2 linked regions of the Homo sapiens genome follow. The protein of the gene in region 1 interacts with the protein of each later gene in a pairwise test. Each region holds a gene or a part of one and is shown on either strand. Other genes may lie near its edges. The genes, in order: IK and EGLN3.

Region 1 (5,434 bases):
CACAGAGGACGTTTGGGGATAAAACCAAGGTCTCCTGGAGCTTTCTGTCTCCAGAATATTGAGAGGCTCCTGGGAAGCAGAGAAAAATGGGAGTACTGGAGCATTGGCAAGGAGACAGTTACAGCCAGATTCTGTCTCCTTAACCTACCTAAGAAGCAGTGGTCAGGTCTGAAGCATGAGGGATGGAGAGTGGGTAGCTTATGTCCTATTTATTTATTTTTTTTAAAAGAGATTTTTTGGTGAAAACCAGAAAACCTAGACAGATTCTAAAAAGGCTCTAATACTTGACCGACATTTTATTTTATTTTATTTATTTATTTTTTGAGACGGAGTCTCGCTCTGTCACCCAGGCTGGAGTACAGTGGTGCGATGTCTGCTCACTGCAACCTCTGCCTCCCGGGGTCAAGCGATTCTTCTGCCTCAGCCTCCCAAGTAGGCACTATAGGCACTATAGGCACGCATCACCACGCCTGGCTAATTTTTGTATTTTCAGTAGAGATGGGGTTTCACTGTATTGGCCTGGCTGGCCTCGAACTCCTGACCTTATGATGTGCCCACCTCGGCCTCCCAAAGTGCTGGGATTACAGGCATGAGCCACTCTTCCTGGCCTTATTTTATTATTTTTATTTATTTATTTATTTTGAGACGAGTCTCGTTTTGTCGCCCAGGCTGGAGTGCAGTGATGCCATCTCGGCTCACTGCAACCTCTGCCTCCTGGGTTTAAGCAATTCTCTTGCCTCAGCCTCCTGAGTAGCTGGGATTACAGGCACCTGCCATCACACCCGGCTAATTTTTTTGTACTTTTAGTAGAGATGGGGTTTCACCATGTTAGCCAGGCTGGTCTCAAACTCCTGACCTCAAGTGATCCGCCCGCCTTGGCCTCCCGAAGTGCTGGGATTACAGGCGTGAGCCACCGCACCCAGCCTTGACCCACGTTTTAAACAGAAGATGTTTAAAAGGGCATTAAGAGCTGGAGAGGATGGTGAAGTTCAGTGGAAATTAACTGAGGAGTATGTTCCTGACTCCTCTCTTTAAATTTCAGGGAAGCTGGAAGAGAAGAAACCTCCTGAGGCTGACATGAAGTATGTATCCTAGCCCCTGGCATCTGATCAGAGGGAGGGGGTCTGTACATTTCTTGTGTCTGGCATTTTGGGGAGGTGCTGACATGAGAATCTGGAGAAATGGTCAGGGGGAGTGAAGGTGTATGTGTGAATTTGGCCAGCTAGTGATCTCCATTTTCCCAGTATTTTTGAAGACATTGGGGATTACGTACCCTCCACAACCAAGACACCTCGGGACAAGGAGCGGGAGAGATATCGGGAACGGGAGCGTGATCGGGAAAGAGACAGAGACCGTGACCGAGAGCGAGAGCGAGAACGAGATCGGGAACGAGAGCGAGAGCGGGACCGAGAGAGAGAAGAGGAAAAGAAGAGACACAGCTACTTTGAGAAGCCAAAAGTAGATGATGAGGTGAGATGTGGGCCCTTAGTACCAGGTGATGGAGTTGCCCCTCTCTGGAAATGTGAGCAAGGTTGGGTAAGGAATTGTTTCAAACTTGGGGGAGGGATGAGTAGGAATCTCTCATGGTAACACTAACTTCACATTTTGTGTTCTTTCCAGCCCATGGACGTTGACAAAGGTGAGTTGTACACACAGCATCTCACAGTTGCTCTAGCAGTCCTGCTTTCCCCTGGTAGGGCTCAGAGCTGGCAACGGTGGGATTGGGGGACCTCCTGGTTCTGGGTTCTTGTAAGAACTGTGTCTTGCTTTATTGAATAGGTGGAGTTCCCTCCACCTTCCTGGGCCATGGCAGGGCATATTTGCTCTTAGATATAATTCCTGTGGCCCTGGGGTTCTGAGGAGGTGAGGTAGAGGTCAAGTATGGAATGTTCTGGATACCCTACCCTCATCTCAACCAGAGTGACTCATTAATTGGAGTTTGTTTAAAACTTTGTTAGACAAAAGGGTTCTATGCCTTAAAAATGTTTTTTAAGTGTGTTGTGGGGAGGAGGTTGTGAGAGCCTCAGTTCAAGGTCTGGGCTGAGTTCTCTTTTCTCCTAGGACCTGGGTCTACCAAGGAGTTGATCAAGTCCATCAATGAAAAGTTTGCTGGGTCTGCTGGCTGGGAAGGCACAGAATCATATCCTTTATTTTAATACGTTCCTGGGTTCCAGAGAACTGGTCTCTTTACTCCAACCCCCCCTGCCTCCCTGCTCCCTCCTACCCTGCCCCTCTCCTTCCCTTTTACGCTGAATTTTGACAGAATGAAACCATCCCTTGTTCCTTCCCAGAGCACCCATAACAGCTCACAGCCCACTCAGAATTTTCATGTTGGGGCTTCTAGCCCTTGGCCCCCTCCTGGCTGAAGCTTTACAGCAATAGGTAGAATCCTGTGTAGTGTTTTCTTTAACATAGCATATGCTGAAGAAGCCAGAAGACAAAAAGCAGCTGGGAGATTTCTTTGGCATGTCCAACAGTTATGCAGAGTGCTACCCAGCCACGTATGTGAAACCTGGTTAAGGAAGGGAGGCTGGGATGATTGGGAAACAAGTTGGGGGTGAAATGGAAATTTGATTCGCTAAGTCCCAGGGCTACTTCTTTTTTTTTTTTTTTTTTTTTTGGAGACAGAGTCTCACTCTGTCACCCAGGCTGGAATGCAATGGTATAATCTCTGCTCGCTGCAATCTCCATCTCCCGGGTTCAAGCGATTCTCCTGCCTCACCCTCCCAAGTAGCTGGGATTATAGGCATGCATCACCACACCTGGCTAGTTTTTGTATTTTTAGTAGAGATGAGGTTTCACCATGTTGGTGAGGCTGGTCTTGAACTCCTGACCTCAGGTAATCTGCCCTCCTCAGCCTCCAAAAGTGCGGGGATTACAGGAGTGAGCCACTGCGCCTGGCCCAAGGCTACTTCTTACTTGGATGAACTATTTTATTAGGCTCTAAGTGGGAGGTCTAGGGGGTGGTCATTCCTATGCAGATAACCTCTTAGTCGGGTAGGTTTCCAGATGAAGCATAGGGTCAGGGTATGCAACATCTGTTTAACTCTTGCTTCTCCTTAGGATGGATGACATGGCTGTGGATAGTGATGAGGAGGTGGATTATAGCAAAATGGACCAGGTATGTAGTTAGAAGGATGGTGGGCGCCTTTGGGCAGTTATTATTTGTTTTACATGTATCTCCTTCCCCACTCCTAAAAAATCTATCTCATTTACTGGGCCCCACCCTCCTTTAGCTGCAGCAGTAGAAACAGCAGCATTGAGGGTCATGAGCAGCTTAACTATTTCAGAGTCTTTGCACAAGATCAAATGACATAGGGTCAAAAATCTATTTTTTACTTCCTATAGCAAAGTGCCAGGCTTTGATTCCCATGGTAGGCAGTAAGCAAGCATCAATGCATAAGTAGAAAGGGCAGAAAAAATTGCAGTCTTTGGAAAATAACTAAATTTTATTCTAGCCAGGATTGAAGTTTTCCTCTAAGTCTTAAGCAAAATTAAAAAGAAAAAAACCACTAATGCCACTAATAGTGAAGAAGTCTGTGTTCTTCCCCTGAGTTCACTGTATTGAAATAGCATGGTTTAATCTTGGAGCCTTGTTTAATCCTGCCTCTACTGTTTATTAGTTTTGTGAACTTGCCAAGTTCTTTCACTGTTTATGCCTCAGTTTCCTCATCAGGAAAATGGAGAGAAATATAGTTCCCTCTTCATAGATTTTATGAGAATTAAGTGAGATATGCATTTAGTGTACAGAATAATGCCTGTCACATAGTAAGTATGTAATAAGCATTTATTATTACTTATCAGGGTATGATTTATGAATTGTGGAACCTGGGATTATGGGAGAGTCTGGCTTCAATCAAGGGCTGAAATTCCATTTCCACTGACATCTCTTCCTTCCCCATCCCCCGATTCTGTCCTGCAACAGGGTAACAAGAAGGGGCCCTTAGGCCGTTGGGACTTTGATACCCAGGAAGAATACAGCGAGTATATGAACAACAAAGAAGCTTTGCCCAAGTGAGTCGGTACTGAATATGGGCAGGGTGTGAGGAGGGGTGTGGGGATTTGGTGGAATAGTGCATATAAGGTTAGAGGGTGTGGTCTGGCTGAGATGTTCCCCACTAAGTTCTTTGCCCACAGGACTCTGGGAAAACCTCGCCACTGCTATGCAATCTCTGATGCATTCTTTCCCAACTGCTTTTTTCAGGGCTGCATTCCAGTATGGTATCAAAATGTCTGAAGGGCGGAAAACCAGGCGCTTCAAGGAAACCAATGACAAAGCAGAGCTTGATCGCCAGTGGAAGAAGATTAGTGCAGTAAGTAGGATGGCCCCTTGGGTGGGAGGGTTTCAGCTGGGAGAAGACATTAGCCTGCAGATTCAGGAACAGGCAAGGGGCTGGAGAGCCATGGAAATGAGAGGTCAGCCTTGGGCCTCAGGTGAGCTTAGATGGGCAGCTTGGTGATAGACTATCCTGTTGTTTTTGCAGATCATTGAGAAGAGGAAGAAGATGGAAGCTGATGGGTGAGCGGCATTATTCTTCCTCTGTGGGACTGGTGGGAATTGCTTAGTGTATTGATCTTATACTGACCCATTTCTCCTTCCATTGCAGGGTTGAAGTCAAAAGACCAAAATACTAATCACTAGTTACAACCAGAGATGCTCCACAAGGATATGCTCCCCACTGTTTTCTTTCTACAATTTCCAAAGGTTGCAAGATGTTTTTTTGTGGATGAATATAAAATTTTATTGTGTAATTACTTGGTTCCATTAAAATTGGTTAACTTGCTATTTTCTTTGTTGAGCATGTCCCCTCCAGTGCCCTTGAAGCACCAAGAACACTAATTCCACTGGTTGTGTAAAATCACATGCAGAAAGTCATCAGTCCTTTCCTGAGCTGTGGTTCTAGATTCCTAGACAGTAAGGATGCTCTCTAGCCAGTGTGCCCAGTAGAGAAGAGAATAATGATCCTCACTGATGGGCAAGAGGTGGATAGAGGAATGTAAGTATGATTGGTCTCAAATGTCAGACTCATTCCGGCCCATCTTCAGGCCTAGTCCCTGGGGAAAGATTTCCTGGGGATTGCTGTCAGCCTGATGGGCTGCTAATCTGATCTCCAGGCTATGAAGGACTGGGCTCTGGATGAAGGCATCTAATGAAAATCACTTATGGGTGGGAACCAAAACCTTTTATGAGTTTATGTACTATGAGCTTTATTAATGTTGAGTACAAATCACTGTCTCCTTGGCTAAAGGTGTAACCTTAGGGAAGTGCTTTGGGTTTAGAGCTGATATAGTGTGGCCCTGCAGGTACAGGAATTCCTATCCTAGACCAGAAGGGTTTGGTGCCCTTCATCACCCTGAAACATTTGCCAAGGCCCAGAATAGGTCTGTTGACCTTTGAATCACACCATTCCCTTCCCTTTTCTTCCCTTCTGCT
Region 2 (7,282 bases), on another chromosome or scaffold:
GGTGGGGTGGGTACACTATATAATGTCAGTGGACAGAGCGGTAAATGTGTAAGGGGACATGTGGATTTATCAGTATATCCAAGAATAGAACTATAGGACTATACTGTATGTGCTGCTGTAGATGACACTACTGTGTTAAACTTGCGTAAACTTCAAATATTAATCTAGTCAGGAAGTTTTAGAAAATAAAAAGCCTGTACTAAAGTAGGCATCCTCTTGATATGTGTCAGTTTATTGCTTGGCATGTTTGTTATATGATCATTAAATTACTCTGGCCCGTTCTTTTAACAATAAAGCATTGAAGACTTCTCTTCTGTTAAACACTAAATCCCTTCCCCGGCTTGATGAGGTTTAGATAGCAACTCAGTTGGACTGATCTGTTTCCGGAGTTTGTTACTGCCCCGTGCACAAATTGGCACAGAAGTGAATGGCTAGTTATTGAAGTCAGGCTTGCTTCTCGGTGCATCCTTAGCCTCATGGTTTTAGACCCTGTCAAAGACGAGCAAATAGTTGGGAATGTGCCCAAGCAAAGACCCATCTCCTATGGCACTCATCCAGAAAACACACTGATAAAATTGGCCAAATGTAGCCTCAACTGGCCCACTGATGCTCGAAATGATTTCCTTCCATTGTTTCCAACTTGATGCATGTGGTTTCTGGAACCAGGAGAGAGGGTGAATGTTCACTCTGGCCAGAAAAATTATCTCTTTGCCTCCCTCTTAAGCAGTCGGATACTTTGCTGACATGTAGGGGTTTTGTCCTAATAGTAAGTCCTCTGGAATTGGCTTTGTCTCTGTGTGTTTTATAGATGCGGCATTTGGTAGAGGATTTACTTTTGTGAGTTTGTATCCATCTTTTTTTTTTTTTTCAATATTTTAATCTGAGCTGAGTTCTGAGGCAGAGAAACACTCCTTAATGACCTGAAGAACTATGTTGCTTTTTCAAGGGTTGATGCTTAGATCAAGTCTTAGATCTTCTTGGGCCTTTGACAGCTGCGTAACCCAATCCCCTCTTTATAGGAAAGAGACAGCCTGGGATCACAGTTAGTTGCAGAGTGAACTATGGCAGGCATCCAGACCACTGACCTTTTCCTTAGAGAAGAGCTGTTTAAGCATATAAGATTATAGCATTGATGTCATACTTTTTCTTTTCAGACACACTCAGTGGGGGGAGCCTGAGATAATAGGGAATCCAGCCTGTAATTGTTTGTGGCTTAAGCGACTTTCATTATTGGCTCTGTGGTGGCTCTTATAATCCTAATAGCTGCTTCCAGGGGTGGGTAATTCTTTAGTCATTATAGGTGACTTTATTTGTCTCTTCTTCTCTTGCTAGGCCCATCAATTCTGTTTGCTACCAATCACCCTTCCTCAAGCCATGCTTTGCTTAGTGGTACCATCATTTGTTAAATCTTCATTGCTGACGTCGCCTCACAGTTTCACCTTCTGAAAGATGTTCAAGCTAACAGCCTAACTTGAGCTCTAAGGATGACATCACATTGACATTTTGATGTTCAAAGGCAGGATATGGGGATTGTTTGCTGCATGAGGATATGAAGTTTGAGAGAGATGGTGATTTAAGCTTTAAAATTGTTGTAAAGTCCAGTTACTATTCAGCCTTATTATTGATCTGGCATGCAAGGTGTGTTTTGCCTAGTTCCGTGTTTTCATGCTACTATTGAGAGTGACTCGGCAGCCACGTTGAAGCTGATTCATTGAACCACTAGCCCATTAGCTTGGGGCTCTACTCAAACGGTCATTTTACCAATGAAGCAACGCTGCCATTTATCAGGAAATATATGGCCTGGATCTTTACATGTATGTTTGAAGATAGGTCTTTTAAAATGACAGAAATAGCTATTGATCTAGGTAAAATGTGAACTTACTCTTTAGAGAAAGAGCCATTCGCTAGTTCATTGATTTATTTATCACATTTTAGATGGACACCTTCTGTATGTCAGGCACTGTCCTAGGTGCTAAGAATACATCAGTGAGTAGAACAGGAAAAAAAATCCCTGTCCTCATCTTGTGTTGCTGGTTCTAATATTTTCCTTGCACCTACTGCATCCCTATAAAAAATATTTTTCAAACATGGCGGTATCCTGTGAAGAAAAGAACTGGCTTTCTATACTTTGCTTTCTTCCCCCTCCCCACTCTGTGTTATAATTTTTCCCTTGGAACAATTAGAGGTCTGTTTACTCTAATGGTAATTTTCAGTAGGATTTTTGGTACGGTTTTCTACTTTATTCTTCCACCTGGTTGATACAGGTAGCACTTAGACAAAGAGAACTTCAGATTATCACCTGATTACATAATTATCAGGAAGAAGACACATATTAAGATACATGCATGGCTTTTTTCCTGAAAGGAATCTCCCTGTGTTGTCTGTGTTAACAAGTTAGGGTGCGGCTTCCTATTGATCTTCCTCTATTCTTTCTATCCTGAGCATTTTATTGAGTAAGCCTGACCTTTTCCTCCTTTGGTGATTAGTTCTGTCACTTTGTGTATGCAAATACCTTTAGCCATTGTTCTGAAACAGTGTGAGTGATTCAGCAGCACTTGCTAAACAGTCATAATCCCTAAACTCCACACCTAGTGACTCTGATTTTGTAGCATGGGAAACTAGAAACTGCTTTTCCAAAAAGGAGTATTGAAGAAAGGCAGGGCATACAAACAGGTTATGCAAACAGGGCATGCAGATAGGTTACTTTAAGAAAGACTGTGTAAAATGTTCTAGAACTGTGGGAATATTGTTGAACTACTTTCCACTGGGCAGAGCCATAGTATGACCTGGCCATTGTGCACAGAAGAGTCCAAATTTATGTACCATACATGAAATTAAGAAGCCAGCAACTACCTGTAAATGTCACGTAACACCCAAGGAGACTGTGTTACTTATCTGCTCACCAGTGGGAGGAGAAGATTGTCTGTCTCAGCTTTGTTAACCAGCTTTCTTGGGATTTCTCCATAGGCAATGGTGGCTTGCTATCCGGGAAATGGAACAGGTTATGTTCGCCACGTGGACAACCCCAACGGTGATGGTCGCTGCATCACCTGCATCTACTATCTGAACAAGAATTGGGATGCCAAGGTACTTTTGAATAATGGGAGTAGAGTGTGGGGTTAGAAACTACAGGAAAATGATTCAGATAACTTAGAGGAGAGTTTATATTGAGTTCATAGTTGCCGTATCTCCCACTGATGAAACATTTCTATTTCCATTTCATAACCTCCTGCGACAATGGAATTAGTCCTAAAGTTGTTAAGAAGAAAACAATGAAGTTAATTTGGAGTGGGGTAGGTAGGGTGATTATTAACCCTACCTCTGGGAAGGGTGGTTGATGAAGGGAAGGTAATTTGATATTAGGATTAAGGATTAATTTTTTTCAGTTTAATTCAGAGTTGTTCTGACTCAATGCAGAATAGGATATACACTTTTCCCTCCCAGCAGCAGCATTGAGAAAGTTCCACAAAAATAGAACTGTAGGCTATAAAACCATCCCCAAGAGAGATTTCCCACACAGTCCTCTCCCTCGGGGTGGTATGTCTCATTGATGGCTGCTTGCCATGGCTTACTATGGTTTGTGAATGCCAAAGGCTTTGTGGCTTATTTTTGTATTATAGAACTTATAGATAGATGGAGATATGAAGCCTGGTTCCATGCTTACAGACATTCATCTGGACTCTGTATGCTTTCCGAAAGTTAAGAATGATTTAGGAGTCTGGGAAGTCAGATAACTTTTCAAGCTTATTTGGCTTTTGAACCTTCTGCATCTCAATTTCCTGTTCATTAGGCAAATACTGGCTGTCATAAAGCAATAATATTTATCCAGAGTCAGAAAAACGAAACTTGGGAAACCATTGAATCAGTGAAAAGGCCTATCTCTTCTCCCTGTTTGGTAACATGACTGGAATACATCCATTAAGTCTCCTTTAAAATCTTGAGAGGTGCTGATAGAGACAAGAGAATAAAGTTATCAGACTGGTAATAATAAATTGCAAGGTCTGGAATCATTTAACAAATATTTGAGTTCCTGCTAGTGTCAGGCGTTGTATTATGAAGAAACATTGATGTGTGAGGCCTGAACTTTACTCTGAATATGGTTATTCTAGTAGGATGAAATAGGTTGACATGTAAAAAAAATAATTCAAGGAAGAGAGTGGTGTATGTCATAAAAGGTGCAGATTAGGTGGTCTGAGAGTTCAGTAAAAAGAGCATGTAACTTCCAACTAATGAGGTCAGATAGGAGCTAAGGGAGTTCAGAAGAGCTGTAAATTCTAATTGAAGGGGAAGTTACATGTGATGATTTTCTTAGAAAGTTGTTAATGGTTAGATGGAACCATGTGAGATCACTGGGCATTTTTTTTTAAGTCAAAAACACTCAAATATTGGCAAATCGGTATGATTCAATCTAATAGTACTCTATTTTACGTCCATGGGCTTTATGACTGTGGGGGGTGGGAGTGCTTTTTTTGGTTTAAGGTGAATAAGGAGATATCTCTAGCTAAGTTTGATATAAAATTTGGTACGAAGTGGCTGGGCGTGGTGGCTCATGCCTATAATCCCAGCACTTCAGGAGGCCCTAGTGGGCGGATCACCTGAGGTCGGGAGTTCGAGACCAGCCTGACCAACATGGGGAAACCCCGTCTCTACTAAAAATACAAAATTAACTGGGCATGGTGGTGCATGCCTCTAATCCCAGCTACTCGGGAGGCTGAGGCAAGAGAATCACTTGAACCAGGGAGGTGGAAGTGGCAGTGAAACGAGATCGTGCCATTGCACTCCAGCCTGGGCAACAAGAGTGAAACTCCATCTCAAATTGGTACAAACTATGAGGTTGAAGTAAAAATCTGGGGTACCATGCATTTGGAGTGGTGGTTAGCAGATGGCATGTTTCTAAATGGAGCTGAAATATGGTTGTTGATAAACTACATGAGAGGTAAGAAATAATCCCCCTTCTTTGTGTCTTTCAGCTACATGGTGGGATCCTGCGGATATTTCCAGAGGGGAAATCATTCATAGCAGATGTGGAGCCCATTTTTGACAGACTCCTGTTCTTCTGGTCAGATCGTAGGAACCCACACGAAGTGCAGCCCTCTTACGCAACCAGGTAATAGCCGGAGCCATGATTCCTCTTCCGGAGCTTGGTGTACAAACCCTAGTTCCAGAGAACTCTTTAAACGTGTGTCCTGTGCATGTGGGGGATTGACCACACCCCATAGCTGATAGCAAACTTGTTTGGAGTCTACAAAAATTAAAGGGGAAACTTTGCGTTCTTTAGCATATCAAACCTAACCTCAGTTTGAAAGTACTATTAACAAGTTGTTTTCTATTAGATGAGCATATTGGATTCCAATTTCTCAAAAGTATTTTTCTCTTCTCTCCTTTCCTCCCTTCTCTTATCTCTCTTTCCCTTTTTTTAAAAAACCTAATGTTGAACTATGCCTAGAGAATGTTGGCTGTCACATATCAGGAATTCTGTCTGGTTACTTTGGATGAGTTTACAAGCTGCTAATTGCAAGCAGAGAAAGAGCCTTGAGAAGAGAAAGAGTAATTTGTTTTGACTTTCTCTTTTTGTCTTTTCCTTGGTTTGAAATTGGCTTGGGCTTGCTGTATCCATGGTCCAACAGTTGGATGTTTTATTAATCTTTTCTTTATCATGTGCACATGAAGATTCTCAGAGTAACTGAACACCTTAGTATTGTTTAGGACCAATCTAGACAATCTTGACAAAAAATCTTCATTCTCAATTCTGCCTCTCATTTACCTTTGTCTGTGTCTAAAGCAATAAGCCGGGCAGCATTGGAGGGCTATGGAGTGCAGCTTATACTGAGACTAGCATTCAGGGGCAGGAGGAGAGAATTTTGGTAGGATGATGATTAAACCCTAACAAGCCTAATTAAATTAAGATCACATGTGCCCTCCTCCGGAAGTCACACAGCTTAGCCCCAAACCCAGTTATATATTAACTGCCAAATCGGAATGTCTTCTAGATGAGCAGGGAACGAATTCTACCACTGAAGTCAGCTTTTGTGTTTTATGGGGTATGTAACTAAACCCTGTTGTTTGTGGCAGAAGTCTTTGGTTATTCCCCAATCTCATGATGACTGGCCTTACAGGGAAAACATTAGCAAATGTTGATGAGAAGTCCCTTGAAAAAAACTCAAGTGCTATAGAAATTGTTAGCTACGGAAGTAGCTAACAATCATTACAAAATGAAACTTTAAAAAAAAACCAAGCATGAAATGGCTCCCATTACAGTCTATCCAATGAATGGGATAAAGCAAATTAGTGGGGATGCAGTAGAAAGCTCTGGGGCATTATTATTATTCAATTGCAATTTTGCCTCAATGTCCAAAACTAAAGAAAGCAAGCCAAGAGTTTTAAACATACTGTGATTTACATAAGTCGTTTTTCAAAGCTTCACTCAAATGTCATCTCTTCTCTATGTTCTCGCCACCAACTTGGGTCTCCCAGTCTTTAGCAGAATGACTCCCTTCTAGTCCTTTCTGTAGAGGCTATGTTTACCTGTTGCATTATTGCAAAATCACCTGTCTCCCCTACTTGGAGCCTGAGATCGCAGAGGAAGATCTGATCACAGGGTCATTTGAATTCCTAATGCCCAAGATAATTTCTGGCACATACCTGGAATTCCTTATGCATTTTATTACATTGAAATAGAATTAAAACCAGAGAAGTTAATTTTAAATTAAAATCAGCGTAGACAGGCCGGGCATGGTGGCTCACACCTGCAATCCCAGCACTTTGGGAGGCCGAGGTGGGCAGGTCAAGAGATCGAGACCATCCTGGCCAACATGGTGAAACCCCATCTCTACTAAAAATTTAAAAATTAGCTGGGTGTGGTAGCGTGCACCTGTAGTCCCAGCTACTTGGGAAGCTGAGGCAGGAGAATCGCTTGAACCTGGGAAGTGGAGGTTGCAGTGAGCCGAGATCACGCCTCTGCCTGGCAACAGAGCAAGACTCCATCTCAAAAAATAAATAAATAAATAAATAAATAAATAAATAAATAAATCAGGGTAGACTTCTAATAATAGAGAAAACTTTAAAACTTTTAATGTGAGATTTATAGGACATTTGTGTTTCTAGTAGTACCATTAAATCTCTTTCCTTATATCTGCTTATCTTTCACAGATATGCTATGACTGTCTGGTACTTTGATGCTGAAGAAAGGGCAGAAGCCAAAAAGAAATTCAGGAATTTAACTAGTATGTGTTTGATAATTTTCTGTGACTTTTGATCAAGTTAATCCTTGACTTTTATTCAA

Evidence for each region.
Region 2: the proteins of IK (region 1) and EGLN3 interact in binary tests that used the Homo sapiens proteins (3 or more experiments, as listed by UniProt).

The regions. Positions count from the first base shown.
Region 1 is NC_000005.10:140,657,695-140,663,128, forward strand, and holds the end of IK (protein Red), read left to right. Parts: intron 1-1,042; coding exon 1,043-1,082; intron 1,083-1,244; coding exon 1,245-1,470; intron 1,471-1,620; coding exon 1,621-1,639; intron 1,640-2,061; coding exon 2,062-2,140; intron 2,141-2,420; coding exon 2,421-2,501; intron 2,502-3,063; coding exon 3,064-3,121; intron 3,122-3,925; coding exon 3,926-4,014; intron 4,015-4,204; coding exon 4,205-4,313; intron 4,314-4,484; coding exon 4,485-4,519; intron 4,520-4,607; coding exon 4,608-4,635; 3' UTR 4,636-4,786; downstream 4,787-5,434. UniProt on the Homo sapiens protein: Involved in pre-mRNA splicing as a component of the spliceosome. Auxiliary spliceosomal protein that regulates selection of alternative splice sites in a small set of target pre-mRNA species. Required for normal mitotic cell cycle progression.
Region 2 is NC_000014.9:33,926,901-33,934,182, reverse strand, and holds part of EGLN3 (prolyl hydroxylase EGLN3), read left to right. Parts: intron 1-2,967; coding exon 2,968-3,087; intron 3,088-4,970; coding exon 4,971-5,107; intron 5,108-7,149; coding exon 7,150-7,223; intron 7,224-7,282. UniProt on the Homo sapiens protein: Prolyl hydroxylase that mediates hydroxylation of proline residues in target proteins, such as PKM, TELO2, ATF4 and HIF1A. Target proteins are preferentially recognized via a LXXLAP motif.